Regions from separate parts of the Homo sapiens genome. Here region 1 is linked to region 2. The links come from fine-mapping of genetic effects on gene expression. A gene starts in region 2. The other region holds a variant in brackets. All regions are shown on one strand. Distances are between the middles of the regions.

What was found.
Region 1: its variant is fine-mapped to the expression of BRD9 in whole blood (TOPMed, PIP above 0.99).

Annotation. Positions count from the first base shown.
Region 1 is chr5:865,951-873,950 of GRCh38, reverse strand. BRD9 (bromodomain containing 9) reads left to right here. Exons shown (of 16, transcript NM_023924.5): 13 at 2,387-2,425; 14 at 3,376-3,478. Among named protein-coding and RNA genes, the nearest start is that of ZDHHC11, 19 kb to the right of the region's middle. The variant T/C (reference allele first, on the strand shown) is at 3,447.
Region 2 is chr5:889,205-897,204 of GRCh38, reverse strand. It overlaps BRD9 (bromodomain containing 9), which reads left to right and starts at 4,404. Exons shown (of 16, transcript NM_023924.5): 1 at 4,404-4,599; 2 at 5,351-5,565; 3 at 5,918-6,050; 4 at 7,558-7,618. The coding sequence starts at 4,548. TRIP13 (thyroid hormone receptor interactor 13) reads right to left here and starts at 4,321. Exons shown (of 13, transcript NM_004237.4): 1 at 4,115-4,321; 2 at 2,253-2,418; 3 at 411-540. The coding sequence starts at 4,206. RefSeq lists silencers at 4,035-4,654, 4,845-5,063 and an enhancer at 4,403-5,035.

The sequences.
Region 1 (8,000 bases), 23 kb after region 2:
CCTTATTCTAGGGTTCGTGTAGCCTTAATGCTAAGGAGTGGCCCTTCGGGGAGCCCTGTCTTTTCAGCGTGGTCTCTGCTGTGGGTGGAGTTCGGATGAGTCTCTGTCCTTCCCAGGCTCTGAGAACGTTTGGCTCATGGCTCCCAAGGAGGGGTCAGTCCCTTGACCTGACGGTTTCATCTGTGCTTGTTACAGATGAACTGGGGTCCACATGCCTGGTGCAGTAAACCCAGACACCCATGCCGAGGTTTTGTCATAGAAAGGACGTGTGTATTTGCAGGGCGCCAAGCAAGGTGGGCCAGGAGGCTCATGTATAAATCCTGGCCTCCCCCACTGGCTACAGGCAAGGCTTGTAAAGCGGGGGTAGATCTCAGGAAAGCAGAACTGAAAGGCAGAGTCGTGCATAAGGACACAGAGGTTACATGTCGGCTTGGCCTAGAAGGGCGGTATCTGCAAGCAGGGCCTTATAGGTTATAGGTGGATTCAAAGGTTTTCTGATTTGCAGCTGGTTAAGGAGGAGAAGCTTTGTTTAAAAATTTGGGGTGAAGAGAAAAGAATGTTAGCTTAGGCTTGTGGGTGTGGCTTCCTCCAGGCCCGTCAGGAAGAAATTCAGAACAAAGAACGGGGTCAGAGCTCAGTCTTCAGTTTCTCCTTATCTGAGCCCTTCATGCCAGTAGATTAGTTTGTTGGGGAGGTCCTAGGTGGAGGGTCCAGGTTTCTGAAAGACAACTCAGGGATATACATTAAGATGTTATCTTTACTTTCTTTCTTTTTTTTTCTTTTTGAGACATAGAGTCTCACTCTGTCACCCAGGCTGGAGTGCAGTGGCGTGATTGTGGCTCACTGCAACCTCTGCCTCCCTGATTCTAGCGATTCTCCTGCCTCAGCCTCCCGAGTAGCTGGGATTACAGGCATGCGCCACCACACCTGGCTAATTTTTGTATTTTTAGTAGAGGCGGAGTTTCGCCATGTTGGCCAGGCTGGTCTTTAACTCCTGACCTCAAATGATGCATCCATCTCAGCCTCCCAGAGTGGTAGGATGTTGTCTTTTCTTTCTACAGGGAACAGTGCTGGGAGGTTGTCTTTACTTTCTACAGGGAACAAACATCTGTCTCCACCTTCCTTGACTGTTGTTTTAGGATACTGTTACCTTCTTGCTTATCAAGTCGCTGATTTACTTCTCAGAGTTATCTAAGTAACTGGAATTTCCCTTGAAGGAACTCAAGATTTTCCTTGATTTCCATGCTTGGAGGGCTCGCAGGCCCCTGAAGAGAGGGTTGCAGCCAGGCGGGAGTCCCCAAGCAGATTTCTGCAGCTCTGAGGAGCAGCCCCCTCTGCAGAGCCTGCCCCACCAGCTCGTGGTTCTGACTCTGAGCTCTGGTCACCCTCCCGTGTCGTGGCCTGCAGGCTCCTTCCAGGCAGGAAGCTGGCCCCCCCAACACAGCGTTAGAATCAGGCATTGCTGTGGGGTAGGGAAAGTGACCCCCTCACAGCCCGGAAATGGGAAGGCTCTGTGGTTTCCTCTCTGGGTTCCAGTTAGATTCCTTTCGGGAAAGTGAACTTGGATATGGAGTTGAGTGACCCCGAGTGCACCCCCGCAGTAAATGATGCTCAGGACTAAAGTGACTGAAGGCTTTTGGGGAAACAGATGCGAACAAAACAGCAGTATTCATTTTCTAATTAAAAGCTTGTGAAAATCGATGTCATTGAATCTGAGAAACATTATTTCGAACAAAGATCACACATGATAGAGTGCATATACTACAGCATCGCTCCACCGGAGCACAGGACGGGTGTGCCACGGAGGCCGACAGTTGTGGAAGGAGACAATGCACGGCCCGGCCCACCTGCTGCAGGCACCGCCAGGAGGTGTCTGCCTCCTTCGCTCCTGCGCCCACGGCAGGCCCACCTGCCACAGGCACTGCCAGGAGGTGTCTGCCTCCTTTGCTCCTGCACACACCTGCCCCTGCAGGACTCGAGCTGGTCTCAGGCAACTGGTCATATTCCAGGTGGAACCCACGAGACCCTTCTTATCCTAAGCTTCCCATAGGATCTAGGCACATCTTTTTTCTTTTGTTTTAAGCCACCCAAGGCTGCCGAAACAGCATCGGCGTCCTCTCTCTGTCCGCTCCATCTCGCCCTGTGGAGCGCTGTCCCCGGCACACAATCCTGGCGCTGAGGAGGGGGCTGGGCGTGGTTGGGTCAGTGACTGGTGATGAAGAAGGTTTGGAGGACCCCCAGCCTTAATCCATTAAGATGGTGTGACTGGGGAGCAGAATTCGCAGAAGCGCACAAGCCATTTTTACGTGTGTGTAATGTCAGCGAATTGTCCGTTTCTATGAAATCACTCTGGAAAAACTAGTTTCTGTCCTCATTTACTTTTCAGAGAAGAAATGTTCCCATGAAGCCTCCAGATGAAGCCAAGGTAAGTTTTTGAACATGGAAGGGCAAGCCAAATATTATTCTCACAGGGAAAGTTGTATCCAGCCTTTGAGGTGGGGAGGTCTGTGTGTATGACGGCGTTTAGAAATGGAGTCCGTTTCTGATCAGTAAGATCAATAGTGTTTCTCCTCCTCTTTTCATGACTTGAGGTGAGTGGTGTGAAGCCGCAGTACATTCTTCCAAATCCAGAAATGGGTAGTTTCAGAGCAGTTGGCCCCGCTGGGTGCTGTCCTTGTGGGACACCCTTGCAAGGGTTGGGCAGGATGGGCCTTCTCAGGACCTGCTTGGTGAGTAGCAGGTGTTGTCCCAAGCACAGTGGGCTCTGGGGCCAGTGCTGGCAGGGCAGTGCTGTGAGCCCAGACTGCTGCACCTGCCGATTGGCAGGTGTGTGTCTCTGACAGTCAGCAGGCATGGGCTTGGGCTTTGGTCCAGGGTCCCTGGGAACCTGGAGAGACCCCTTAACATCTGTTTGAGGGCAGAGGCCGAGCTGCAGGGAGCTGATGAGAGAGTATGTGTTAGGGTGGCTGTAGTCTAGCCCTGAGGACACGCCTTGCTGGGAAAGGAAAGGGAACGTTGTGTGCTCTGTGAAGTGCCTGAGAAATAGTCCTGGACCCTAAAATTCTGTGTGTCTTCCTGTTGCATAATGTCCCTCCCCAATTTCTTTAGCCCCAAAAAGTTAACAAAGGATTGTTAGTTTGCGTTGTTGGTCTCAGTAGGTTTTTCTTTGACATGGATTTGCATATCCATTCATGAGCTCCAACCTGACAGTCCCTTGAACAGCAGCCTCAGTGAACAGGGCTTGGTCTTGTCACTTACTGAGGGGTGGGTTCACGTTTAGCAAATAATTAGAGTGATTTCAATAGCGAGTGTGAAGTAACATTTCGTTTTTCGTTTGATGTTTGAATTGCTCTTGATGTGTGTCTGTCTCCACAGGTTGGGGACACCCTAGGAGACAGCAGCAGCTCTGTTCTGGAGTTCATGTCGATGAAGTCCTATCCCGACGT[T/C]TCTGTGGATATCTCCATGCTCAGCTCTCTGGGTGAGTTGTAACAGGCACTTTCCCACAGCACCTGGTGAAGGTGTGATAGAGGAAGAAAACACACGGCCTCCACCTCCTCTCCCTTCCTGACTAGACAGGGATGCCAGGAAAATCTTTTGTTACGGTATTTGGTCTTTGTCCCAGGTTTTTGGACCATAGCTCCTAAAATCCTTGGAATCTCCTGAGTGTTGTGTCTTTTTTAAGCTAATGAGAAGTGGTTGCAGCCCCTGGGTAACCTCAGGATGGGGTCTGGCCGATCCCCAGTGGCTGTGGATTTCATCAGTGTTGCCTACCGCCTCCATGAAATCCCAAAAGGTGGGGTTCCCTAGGGAGCCTCATTGCTGGACGCCTGGAGGCTCTGGGAAGAAGGCAGCCCCTTCCCACGGGTCCCCTCTGCATCGCTCCCACCTGGGGCCCATCCGTACCCTGGGTGACACCCCGCAGAATAAATGGGTAAATGTCAGCCTAGTGTGTGGACAGAAGAGTCAAACTCTGCAGGGTATTTAGAGAGGTTTCTTCTGAGTGAAATACGAAGACCGTGGCTGTGACACAGTCCCAGGAGGTCCCAAGAACATTTGCCGAGGAGGACTGGTCTGCAGCTTGTTTTGATATGTTTTAGGGAGACAGAGGACATCAGTCAGTACATGTCAGTTGTAACAGTGGTTCGTGTTGGAAAGGCGGGACAACTTGAAGCGAGGAATGTCGGGTCGTTGGTGGATTCAGAGATTTCCTGATTGGCATTTGGTTGAAAGGGTTAAGCTCTGAAGAGCTGAAGTCAGAAAGAAATGTGCATGGTTAACATAAGCAGTTGTAGAAGCCAAGGTTCTTGTCACATAGATGAATTCAGCCTTCAGGTAGCAGGCTTCAAAAAGAGTAGAGTAGATGGCAAACATCACTCATGAGGCCCTCAAAGGTACCAGATTGTTAGTTAAATCTCTGTTGGGTCAGGAAGAGACTTGGAAGGGGCAGGAGATTCTCTACAGAATGTAGATTTTTCCCACAAGATACAGCTTTGCAGGGCTATTTCAAAATATGTCAAAGGGATATATTTTGAGATAAAATACTCAGTTTCTTTCAGGGCCTGCCATCTATCACGTGATGCTGTACTAAAGTCGGATCGGAATTTGGTGTCTTATTACCACGGAGTCTGCTTTGTCAACCTTCAGATTTCTGTTTTAAAGTTAATGCTGGTCAGCTGTGCCTGAATTCCAAAAGAGGGGATAATGAGGCAAGTCCAGTCCCGCTTCACATCATGGCCTGACCTCATTTTCCAGGTTGACTTTGGAGTGCCCTTGGCCAAGAGTGGGAATCCGTTCAGTCCATGGGGCTTAGAATTTTATTTTTCATTTACAGATGTTTCCCTGACTTCTGTGAGTCACTCTAGGAAATTCATAGAGCTCAAGTCTGGTCTTCTGGGAACCCCATTTGATAGCTGGTTAGTCGGAAGCACAGACCACAGCCTGGGGCTTTCAGTTGGCATCAGCCGGTGGGGCCATCCTGGAGACTGTGCCCTCACCTGGGAGGCTGCCGGTGCAGCGCCCCCGAGCTGTTCTGACCTCCAGCAGCATTTGTGGTGCCTGGATCCATGGGTCCCACTGCTTTGCGTGGTGACGTTCCACCTGTCTCTGCTGGCTCTGTTCAGGCACTTATGGCCGTGATTTATTATAGGGGAAGGGTGCCAACAGCAGCAGAGGGACAAGAGTGACATCCAAGGAAACCCAGCGTGAGGCCCAGATCCACTCCCAGCAGAGGCACATGGGACACGCTTAATTCCCAGGAGTGAGCTGTGACAACACACGTGAAATGCCCACCAGGGAAGCCCGTCAGAGGCTTGGTGCTCGGGGTCACAGGGCACCCCCTTGCCAGGCAGGTACCAAAGTCCAGACCCCGGAGGGAAGGTGAACTTTAGCATAAACCACTCTGCTCCTGTTGTTGGAGCTGTGAACAATCCCTAGCACTGGGGGGGACCCCAGATGCCAGCCGTGGCTGGCCTTGCCTTCCAGGGGACCCTGGCCCCAGGCCGCTGTGACAGCACTTTTCTGCACAGCAGCTGTTTTTCTCAGCACTTCTAAGATTTTGTCCTTATTACTACTTCTCAGCAGCTTGGTGCTGATGGGCTTTGGTGCTGATGTGCTGTGGTGTGTTAGTCTGTCCTCACACTGTTATAAAGAACCACCTGAGACTGGTCATTGGTGAAGGAAAGAGGTTTAATTGACTCACAGTTCCTCAGGCTGTTTGGGAGGCATGGCTGGGAGGCATCAGGAAACTTCCAATCATGGCGGAAGATGAAGGAGAAACATGCATGTCTTCACATGGCGGAGCAGGAGAGAACGCAAAGGGGGAAGTGCTTTGAAACAACCAGATCTCATGAGAAGTCACTCACTATCATGAGAACAGAGAACAGCAAGGGGGAAATCCATCCCCATGATCCAATCACCTTCCACCAGGACCCTCCCCTAACATTGGGAATTACAATTCAACATGAGATTTGGGCAGGAATACAGAGCCAAACTGTATCATTCTGCCCCTGACTCCTCTCGAATCTTTTGTCCTTTTCACATTTCAAAACACAATCATGCCTTCCTAACAGTCCCCTAAAGTCTTAACTCATTCCAGCATTAACTCAGAAGTCCACAGTCCAAAGTCTTATCTGAGACAAGGCAAGTTACTTCTGCCTGTGAGCCTGTAAAATCCAAAACAAGTTAGTTAATTCCAAGATACAAATCGGGTACAGACATTGGGTAAATAGACCTATCCCAAGAGGGAGAAATCAGCCAAAACAAAGGGGCAGCAGGCTACAAATCTGAAACCCAGCAGGGCAGTCATTACATCTTGAGGCCCCGAAAGAATCTTCTTTGATTCCTTGTCTCACATCCAGGCTACACTGATGCAAGGGATGGGCTCCCACGGCCTTGGGCAGCCCCGCCCTTGTGGCTCTGCAGGGTACAGCCTCTGTGGCTGCTTTCCCTGGCTGGTGTTGAGTGCCTGCAGCTTTTCCAGATGGCATGGTGCAAGCTGTCGGATCTACCATTCTGAGGTCTGGAGGACGGTGGCCCTTTTCTCACAGCTCCACTAGGCAGTGCCCCAGTGGGTACTCTGTGTGGGGTGAGGGCTCCAACCTCACATTTCCCCTCTGCACTGCCCTAGCAGAGGTTCTCCATGAAGGGCCTGCCCCTGCAGCAGACTTCTGCCTGGACACCCTGGCTTTTCCATACATCCTCTGAAATCTAGGTGGAGGCTGCCAAACCTCAGCTCTTGCCTTCTGCCTACCCACATACCCAACACCATGTGGAAGCTTCCAGGGCTTGGGGCTTGCACCCTCTGAAGCATCGACCCTTTTAGCCCTGTACCTTGGCCCCTTTTAGCCATGGCTGGGACACAGAGCACCATGGCACATGTCCCAGTGCTTCACAGAGTAGTGGGGCCCTTTTCCCTCCTAGACCCCCAGGCCTGTGATGGCAGTGTCTGGGCAAAGGTCTTTGAAATGTCCCTGAGGTATTAACATTTGGCTCCTCTTTACTTACGCAAATGTCTGCAGCCTTCTTGAATTCCTCCCCAGAAAATGGGTTTTTCTTTTCTACCACATGGCAGGGGTACAAATTTTCCAAACTTTTACTCTCTGCTTCCCTTTTAAATATAAGTTCCAGTTTCAGGTCATTTTTCTGTTTGTGCAAGTGAGCATAGGCTTTTAGAAGCAGCCAAGTCACCTCTTGAATGCTTTAGTGCTTAGAAATTTCTTCCACCAGGTGCCCTAAATCATCTCTCTCAAGTTCAAAGTTCCACAGATTTCTAGAGCAGGGTCACAGTGCTGTCAGTCTCTCCTAAAGAATAGCAAGAGTGACCTTTGCCCCCATTCCCAATGGGGTCCTCGTCTCCATCTGAGACCACCTCAGCCTGGATTTCACTGTCCATATCACTATCAGCATTTGAATCATAGCCATGCAGGAAGTCTCTAGGTAGTTCCAAACTTTCCCTCATCTTCCTGTCTTTAAGTTCTCCCAGCTGTTCTAGCCTCTGCTCATTACCCAGTTCTACAGGGCATGTCTGTAGTCACTGTTACTACACTTTGTCTACTGATTCCCTGATATCAGCTTTGAGTCTCTCCTAGTTTGGGGCTGTGTTTTCCTGCTCCTTCGTGTGTGTTGGAATCATTTACTGGATACCAGGTGGAGTTTGTAGTTGATGCCGTTGGGTGATAGGTCTGCTTACACACCTTTGAGGCCTGGCGGCCTTTGTTCTGAGTTTGAGAAGTGGCTTAGACTCTGTGGGACCTTCCCCAGGCATTGTCAGGGTAAGCCCAGAGTCACCCCGGGGAGGGTGAAGCTGGTCCCCTGGCTGGTGGGGCTCAGGTGACCACAGACCTGTGTGCAGGTTCTTGGCATGTCTGGTGCACAGTTCAGGAGTGGGCTGGGAGCTCATCCTTTCCACCTCTCAGCTGGACGTGCTGGGTCCCCGATGGCTGTGGCCTGGAACCTGCTCCACAGTGAACTGGGCGGGTACCAGGGTCTGCCGGCCTCTTGCA
Region 2 (8,000 bases):
CTGGGCTTGGCCTGCTAGAGCCCATCCAAATCCACCTGTTTCCCCACACACTGACTGAATGAAGCCGTGGGCTTGGCCTGCTAGAGCCCATCAGCAATGCCCACGGAGAAGCATCAAGCAGACAAGGAGCCACTCAGCAGGACAGACCAAGCAGGCATGTGAGAAGAGCACATGGGCACTCTCCGTTAGCCAGGAACTCTAAGGTACCCACCCAAAGGAACAGTATGGTCCCACACTGGAAATCTCTACTTTCCTCTTTTGTGATATACTTTCCATTTCATAAGAGAGAAAACATCCTAAAATCCTACAAAACAAATGGACAAACAGAACCCCCCCTGTGAACTGACATGGCATGGAGTATACAATCCTCTGACCTCAGCCTCCCCTTCAACTCCCATCACACCCCATACCTGCAGGTAGAACCCAGTGATTTGCTGCAATTATGTTTTCTGTCTCTTCCTCCAGATTTTCACTGCTGGGGCCATCTTCATTCAGCTGGAAAATGTGAAGTGCAACAGTGCATGCACTCAAATCGATGGGCTAAAATGAGGGAAAAGCCAATATCGACACACATTTCCAACTCTCACTTAACTGCAACCATACAAATTAGATGTTAAGGTCTACAAATAAAAACTGAATGTACAGTATAATCAAAGCTAGTTCTCAGATTAGATGAGAAGGCTATTATTTTATTTCAGATTGAGGATTGGCTCTTTTGAAAGCTAATACCCATCCCTTGCTCTTTGGGCCCTACATTTACTTACAGAATGAAAAAGTGCCCTAAATCCAGCCTCCGGGACGTTATTATATAAATACACTCACACAGATGGGACCAAAAACTGAGTTTTATCATATAAGGTTTTTTGTTTTTTTTTAATTAACTTATTTTTTGCAACGGGATCTTGCTTTGTCGCCCAGGCTAGAGTGCAGCAGCACGATCACAGCTCACAGCAACATTAAATTCCTGGACTCAAGTGATCCTCCCACCTCCAGCCTTCTGAGTAGCTGACACTACAAGTGTGCGCCACCGCACTGGCTAATTTTTTAAAACTCTTTTTAGAGACGGGGTCTTGCTATGATCCCCGGGCCATTCTCCAATTCCTGGCCTCAAGTGATCCTTCCATCCTTCTCCCACAGTGCTGGGACTACAGGCATGAGCCACCTTGCCCAGTCGGTTTCCTAACTGTGTCTTTTTACATTTGTTATTAACTCAGAGAAATGTTTACATTGGTAGATAGAAATCTATTTCATTCTTCTTAATGGCTATATTGTACATAGTGTAGATATATGGAATTCCTACATTTATTAACTGACCTCTGGTGGACAGTTAAAATATTTCAAATTGTTGGCTATTATTAACAGCATCTAACAAACATCTGTTCAGAAAGATCTACAAAATTGCATGATTATCAGCTACGATAAATTCCTACAAGTGAATCTGCAGTCAGAGAACATTAGAACTTTCCCTGGGCAGCCCGTGCCCTCCAGTTAGGGTGTCCATCCCTCCACAACAGTGTGGGAAGCTCTTCCTTCCCTCAGACTGGCCAAAACCACGGCATTATCAGATCTCAGTGTGCACAAAGCTCTGAGCATGCACAAACATGAGTCCTAACGTATGAATGGGGAGGTCCACCTCACGAGCAGAACTTAGTACCAAGCCTGTCCTTCACAGCTGGTTCTTACAGGACAGGAATTGTACTGCTGTAAGTGATAAGTCTTCCTTAGGAATGTTTCAGGTTGTTTTTATACTGGTGCCAGAATCGCCCCAATGCCTCCACGCCCTCACACAAAGCTCCTCTAACCCATACGCATCAACTCAGATGGTGGGTGAGGTGGCCATGCATGGGATGAGATAAAGGAATTCTATAAGGCAAGCCCATCTTCTCATCTCTGTGGCCCCACACCTCCTATGGTCCTAGCACACACTGAGCACTTTATAAACATTTGCTGATTGAAAGAATGAGACATGGCACACAGGCCTTACCAGCGCAGCCCACTATTGTACAGCACTGCATTCTCATTCCTGGTTTCCAATCTGTTACTGCTATACTGAGAGCACCCCGACATCAGGGCTACTTCCTACTCCCAGCACCTGGCTCCTGACAGCTAGTGAAAAGAACTTGTCTAGCCACCCAAACCAACAGAGAAGTGAACCTGTTTCTGACAACAGGCTATGAAAACGGCAAGACATTCATGATACAACCTTTTGTATTCAGCTAACTGTTCCTTGGCCCAGCAAATTAGTAACTTACCTGTGAGTCTTTAACCTTTAATTCTGTGTCAATAATAGACACAGACTGCACATTTCTGGTCAAAAAAGGTTCATCAAACTCAGTCCATGTGTAATCACCAAACACAATATTATGTCTGTTGAGTAGCTTTCTAACACTCAGGTTTATGTCTTCTTTCTTTGCAGTGCTAAAAAAAGAAGCCAAAACACACATAAATGATCTTAGTTCAAAAACAAAATGTTAAAATGAAGTGTTTTGAAAAACTCAGACAATACATAAGAAAGCCCAGTAGTTAACAGGGTAAGTTGGAGTTGGCCTGCCTGGGACCAAATCTAGAGCCACCCCTTGCCTGTGGGTCCTCTACCAGCTGTGCCCTGAAGAAGCTGTGCCTCAGCTCCCAGTTAGAAAAAGGGGACAACAGTAAGAGTTCTCGCTATGCTGGGCTACTGTGAAGTCATTAATACACTCAAAGTGTTTAGGACGATACCTGGCACATAGTAAGCACGCAATAATGTTGGCTTTCACTATTACTAATGAAGTTCCACAGCTGTGGGGTCAGGCCTGGGGTCTGCATTGTAACAAGTCTCCAATAGCCGTGATTCGTGCTGAGAAAATCTAATGCTTTCAGCTTGGTATCCAGGGCTTCCCTTGGTCCCCCTTGCTGCAGTCCTCCTAACACCTCCCCTTTCTACAACAGTGACCTGGTCCCGGATCACACCTCTGTGCCCTGCTATGCACTGTCCCAGCTTACTGGCCTGATCAACTGCAGTCACCCTCTAAGTCCTATTCAATGTCTGCCTCCCTCTGAGCCCTCCTGGACAGGCTCCTCAGAGCCAGGCAGGTGACATGTGGCCCCTTTGCAATCGTCCCAGCACCCTACAAGCAGCGACCACCATGCATAGTGCGGTTGTGTGCAGGTGTCTATGAACTCTGGTGCAGTTGTACGTAGGTGTCTGTCCTCTAGGTGCAGCTGTGCTCTGGTGTGATTATGCCTAGCGTCTCTGGGCCCAGGTGTGGTTGTACATGGGGTGTCTCTAGGCTGCGGTGGCACTGTGTACAGGTGTCTCTGAGCGCTAAGGTGTTTACACAGGTGTCGCCAGGCTGTGATGGGGCTTTGTGCAGGTGTCTCTGGGCCCTGGTGCAATTATGCTGACGTGTCTGAACTCCAGCACCTAGAAAATACCCAGTCAACAGCTATTCTGTTAAAGGAAAGGTCTCTTCCTCTGCATCCCCTCTGAGGCTGGTGGTCTCACCTGACCTCAATCCACCCTCCGTGGACATAAGGAGGGTCTGTGAAGGTCTGGCCCCGCCGCTGAGTTCCCCCCACTCCAGGGAGCAGCACAGCCCACAGGCCCCACCATACCATGAACTGACTTGGTCACAAATGAGTGGGATGTGCTTTGAACCCTAAAAATTTAACATCGAGTCCGTGAGGAACGGGAACAATTAAAGGGTCTGAGAAGCAGTGGCTCAAAGAATAACCACCCAGCTTTCGGCTGAGACTAGAGCTCTCTGTAATGCGCAGCCATCCTATTCTCCAACGTGGGACTCAGGGCCACATCAATGCACTGGAGGACAGCCGGGGCAGGGGCAGGGTCAGGGCCAGGTCCGTGAGCTGAGGTCGGGTCGGGGCTCAATCTGTGAGCTGGGGTCCTGCGCGCAGGGCTCGGGTCGGCCGGGTCAGTGCCCTGCGGTGGGGTCGCGTCATTGCGCTAGGATCCGGTCGGGGCCCGGCGGCCTGTGCGCCCGGGTCCAGTCGGGCCGGATCAGTACCCTGGGGTTCGGTCGCATCAGAATCAGTGCGCTGGGGTCGGGGCTCGGTGCACGCGCTGGGGTCGGGGCGGGTGGGTGCCCAGAGGATGTGTCGGACAGGTCCGGCTCACCTGCTGCCGCGCTGATGCACCTCCACGTGGACCGTTGGCGACTCGGCCACACAGGGAAGCGCCTGCTTCAGGTCGCCCACGGCCTCGTCCATGGCGCCCCCGAGAGCAGTGGGGACCCAACCAGGGCGCGGCCGCCGCCACCTCACGCCCAGCGTCGCCGCCACAGCCGCTGCCTCAGCCCGCGGGCCCCGCCCTAGCTTCGAATCTGCCGCGCGAGGCGCACCACCTCCTGACCCGGAAGCGCTCGGGCCCGGCAGGGCCACTTCCTGCCGCGGCCCCGCCTCGCCCCGTTTCCGGCGCGGCCCAGCGAGCTCGGCAACCTCGGCGCAGCGAGCGCGGGCGGCCAGCCAGGGCCAGGGGGCGGTGGCGGCCAAGGTCCGACCGGGTGCCAGCTGTTCCCAGCCCCCGCCTCGGGCCCGCCGCCGGCGCCGCCATGGGCAAGAAGCACAAGAAGCACAAGGCCGAGTGGCGCTCGTCCTACGAGGGTGAGGCGGCGGCGCTTTGTGACGCGCGGCGGGCGGGGTCCCGGGCACGGGGGAGGAGTTCCGGGCACGCGGACGGGGGTCCTGGGCACCGGGCGAGGTCCTGGCCACGAGGGAGGGGTTCTGGGCACGCGGGAGGGGGTCCTGGGATTTCGGGCAGGGAACCGGGCACACGTGAGGGGTCCTGGGTAGGCGCTTACGTTCCTGGTAGAGGGTTCTGGGTTCGAGGCTGCAAGCCCACTCACCCCGGTCCTGGAGACTAGGGAAGCATCTGTGCTGGCTTTTGTGTGGAGCTCAGGGAGAAGCTGGGCTGCCCTTTCTCCCGCCTTTCCCTCCCTCTCCCTTGCTCCCGCAGCAGCTCCATGGGTGTCAGCGGGCAGCACGGGCGCCTGCAGGAAGTCAGGCGAGGGTGAACCGAAGTGCTGGGGGTTTCTAGGAGGGAGATCGGGCTCCGGGGTTCCAGGTCCCTCTTAATCCATCTTCTTGAACGAGTAATGTGAACAACATCCCACAGGGCCTCTGGTGAGGACACCGTGGCTCGAAAGGGACCTGAAGCTCCCTGCGGAGGGGAAGGGAGAACAAGGAGGCAGTGACATGCCGCCACTGTGGTCTTCCCTTCCGTCTTTCCCTGCTGGTTGGCAGCCCCGCTGTACTCCTTAGGGAGGCCTTTCCCTCTTAGCACCTTCACGTCTCACCTGGCTGCGTGGCGTTTGCACCTGAGCACGCGGGTAGAACTCGGTCTGTGTCTGTGCAGATTATGCCGACAAGCCCCTGGAGAAGCCTCTAAAGCTAGTCCTGAAGGTCGGAGGAAGTGAAGTGACTGAACTCTCAGGATCCGGCCACGACTCCAGTTACTATGATGACAGGTCAGACCATGAGCGAGAGAGGCACAAAGAAAAGAAAAAGAAGAAGAAGAAGAAGTCCGAGAAGGAGAAGCATCTGGACGATGAGGAAAGAAGGAAGCGAAAGGTAAAGGAGCAGCGGCGGTGGCCCGGACGCTGCCCACGAGGAGCCCGTGGGGAGCCTGGTCCCAGGACCCAGGCAGAGTGCGCCTGCGTGGCTGGAGGAGGGGAGGGGGTGTTCCGTTGGTAGCAAAACGCGAACCGCTGAGGCCCGCAGACTCAGTTCCAGGATCCTGGGTGTGCTGTTCCTCAGCAGACCCTGCCAGGGTCTCTGTGAGGAGGGAGCCTGGCATGAGGAGGATCTCGGAGGGGGTTTCCCTTAGTTCTGTCCCTCCCCTGAGAACTGCGAGGGGATTGGGCAGACCTGTCCGGATCCCGCCTACTCCTGCCTTTCTCACTCCCTTGACTCTGCCGCCCAGGAAGAGAAGAAGCGGAAGCGAGAGAGGGAGCACTGTGACACGGAGGGAGAGGCTGACGACTTTGATCCTGGGAAGAAGGTGGAGGTGGAGCCGCCCCCAGATCGGCCAGTCCGAGCGTGCCGGACACAGCCAGGCAAGGGTGCACTTTTAGAGACTCTCCTGGTGTTCACAGCTCATCGTTGTAAATGAGGGGTCGGCACCGTGTCCTGTTGCTTTGGGGAGAAGCATGGGAGGGAGGAGAGCTGGTATTTCCAGGGCCTCATCCCAGGTGTCCTCTGGCCTGAGGTTTCCTCCGGTGTCTCTGAATGTCTAGAGCAAGGCGTGGCCAGTTACCACTGGTGCCCTTCAGTTTTGTTTTTTAACTTGTTAGCTAAGGATGGCTTATATGTTTTTTAAGCGTTCATAAAAAGAAACAAAAAGGCATCTCCACAGAGACCAATCGTATGTGACCCGCAAAGCCTAGACTGTTTTTTGTCTGGCCTTTATGTAAAAAGTTTGCCAGCCCTGGGTCTTGAAGTTTGGTTTTGTTTGCACTTAAGACAGTATTGGAACAGTAGCCCCATCTGGGTCAGACTGGTAAGAGAGATGCATGTCAGTGAAAACGCAGGTAATTCCCCTTGGGAAGAAGGGACCTCGAGGCCCAAATGGTGGGTCTGAAGTTGCTGAAAGTGACCATAGGCTGAGACAAAGGAAGCTGGAGGCCTTTAGTAGAATCTCTGTCGTGGGCACCATCTGCGAAGGATGGCATTTGGCTGGAATTTCCAGTTGACAAGGACTTGCCCTCTGAGTTCTCTTTGTCCCCAGCCTTCCTGTGCACAACTCACAGTGATGAGGCATTTGTACCTAAGACAAGGGGTGTCTCTTCCCAGCAACTCTCAGCATCCAGTGGTTCCTGGATTATAGGGAAACAGACGGCTGGGCTTTGGGACATGGGACATCAGGGAGTGGGGAGGCTAGTGCTGCGATCATTCAGGCCGTCAGAAACTGTCTGAGGCCTGCTGGCTCCACTGAAGGAAAGTTCTGGAAAGCTGGTGGCCTTCTGAGCTCCTGTGGTCATTTGGCTCTTCAGGCACTTTCTTTTTTTAATTTATTTTTGAAACATGGTCTTGCTGTGTCGCCTAGGCTGGAGTGCAGTGTCGTGATTCACTCCTGGGCTCAGATAACCCTGGGCTCAAGCGATCCTCCCACCTCAGCCTCCCAAGTTGCTGGGACTACAGGCACGCACCACCACGCCGGCCATTTATTTACTTTTTGTTGAATTTTAAGGGACCTCAAGTGAAATAATAATCGGTGAATTCAGGATCAACCTTTATGTCCAGAGCGTTTGTTCCGTCGTCCATTTCTTGTCTAGAGTAGTGGTATGAGCTGAAAACATTGCTAAGTGATCACCACATATTGTTGATGTAAGGGCTACCGGTTATTACAAGAGATTTTTATGACTCCTGCTGTGGGGGTGCCCTTTCTACCCGGCTGAGCTTGGTGGGAGCCAAGGCTGAGTCGGATGTATCTTTATATCCCCAGTTCTCGGTGGAACTTAAAATGCTGTGAGACACCAGACAGACAGATACTGTGAACTTGGAGCTCTCTAATGAAGGGATACCAAAGTCTTGTATTCAATTTTTTTTTCCTTAAATTGTCAGCCGAAAATGAGAGCACACCTATTCAGCAACTCCTGGAACACTTCCTCCGCCAGCTTCAGAGGTAAACCGGGGCGTTTCTGAAGAGCTAGTGTCTGGGGGGGTGTGGTGTCATCTTTTCTGAGGCCTTATTCCCCACGCCAGCCTCGTCAGCTGTGAAACAGACCCTGCACCTTCTCTTGGTGACTCCCAGTCCACTTCGGGGTGCGTAGGAAGAGTTCATGAACTCATTAGTGGCTCACTCTGAAGTCAGAGTAGAGTGAGGGAAGTCAAGGCTAGAGCTGGGACATTGATGGCCGCCAGGATGCGTTGGGGGAATTTTTATTATATCTGAAATACCTATCACAATAAATTAAAAGACGCTCGTAACTTTTTTATTTTTAAGAAACAAAATTCGGTCAGTTGTATCCAATTTTTGGATTGTAAGAGATTTTGTATCATTTAGA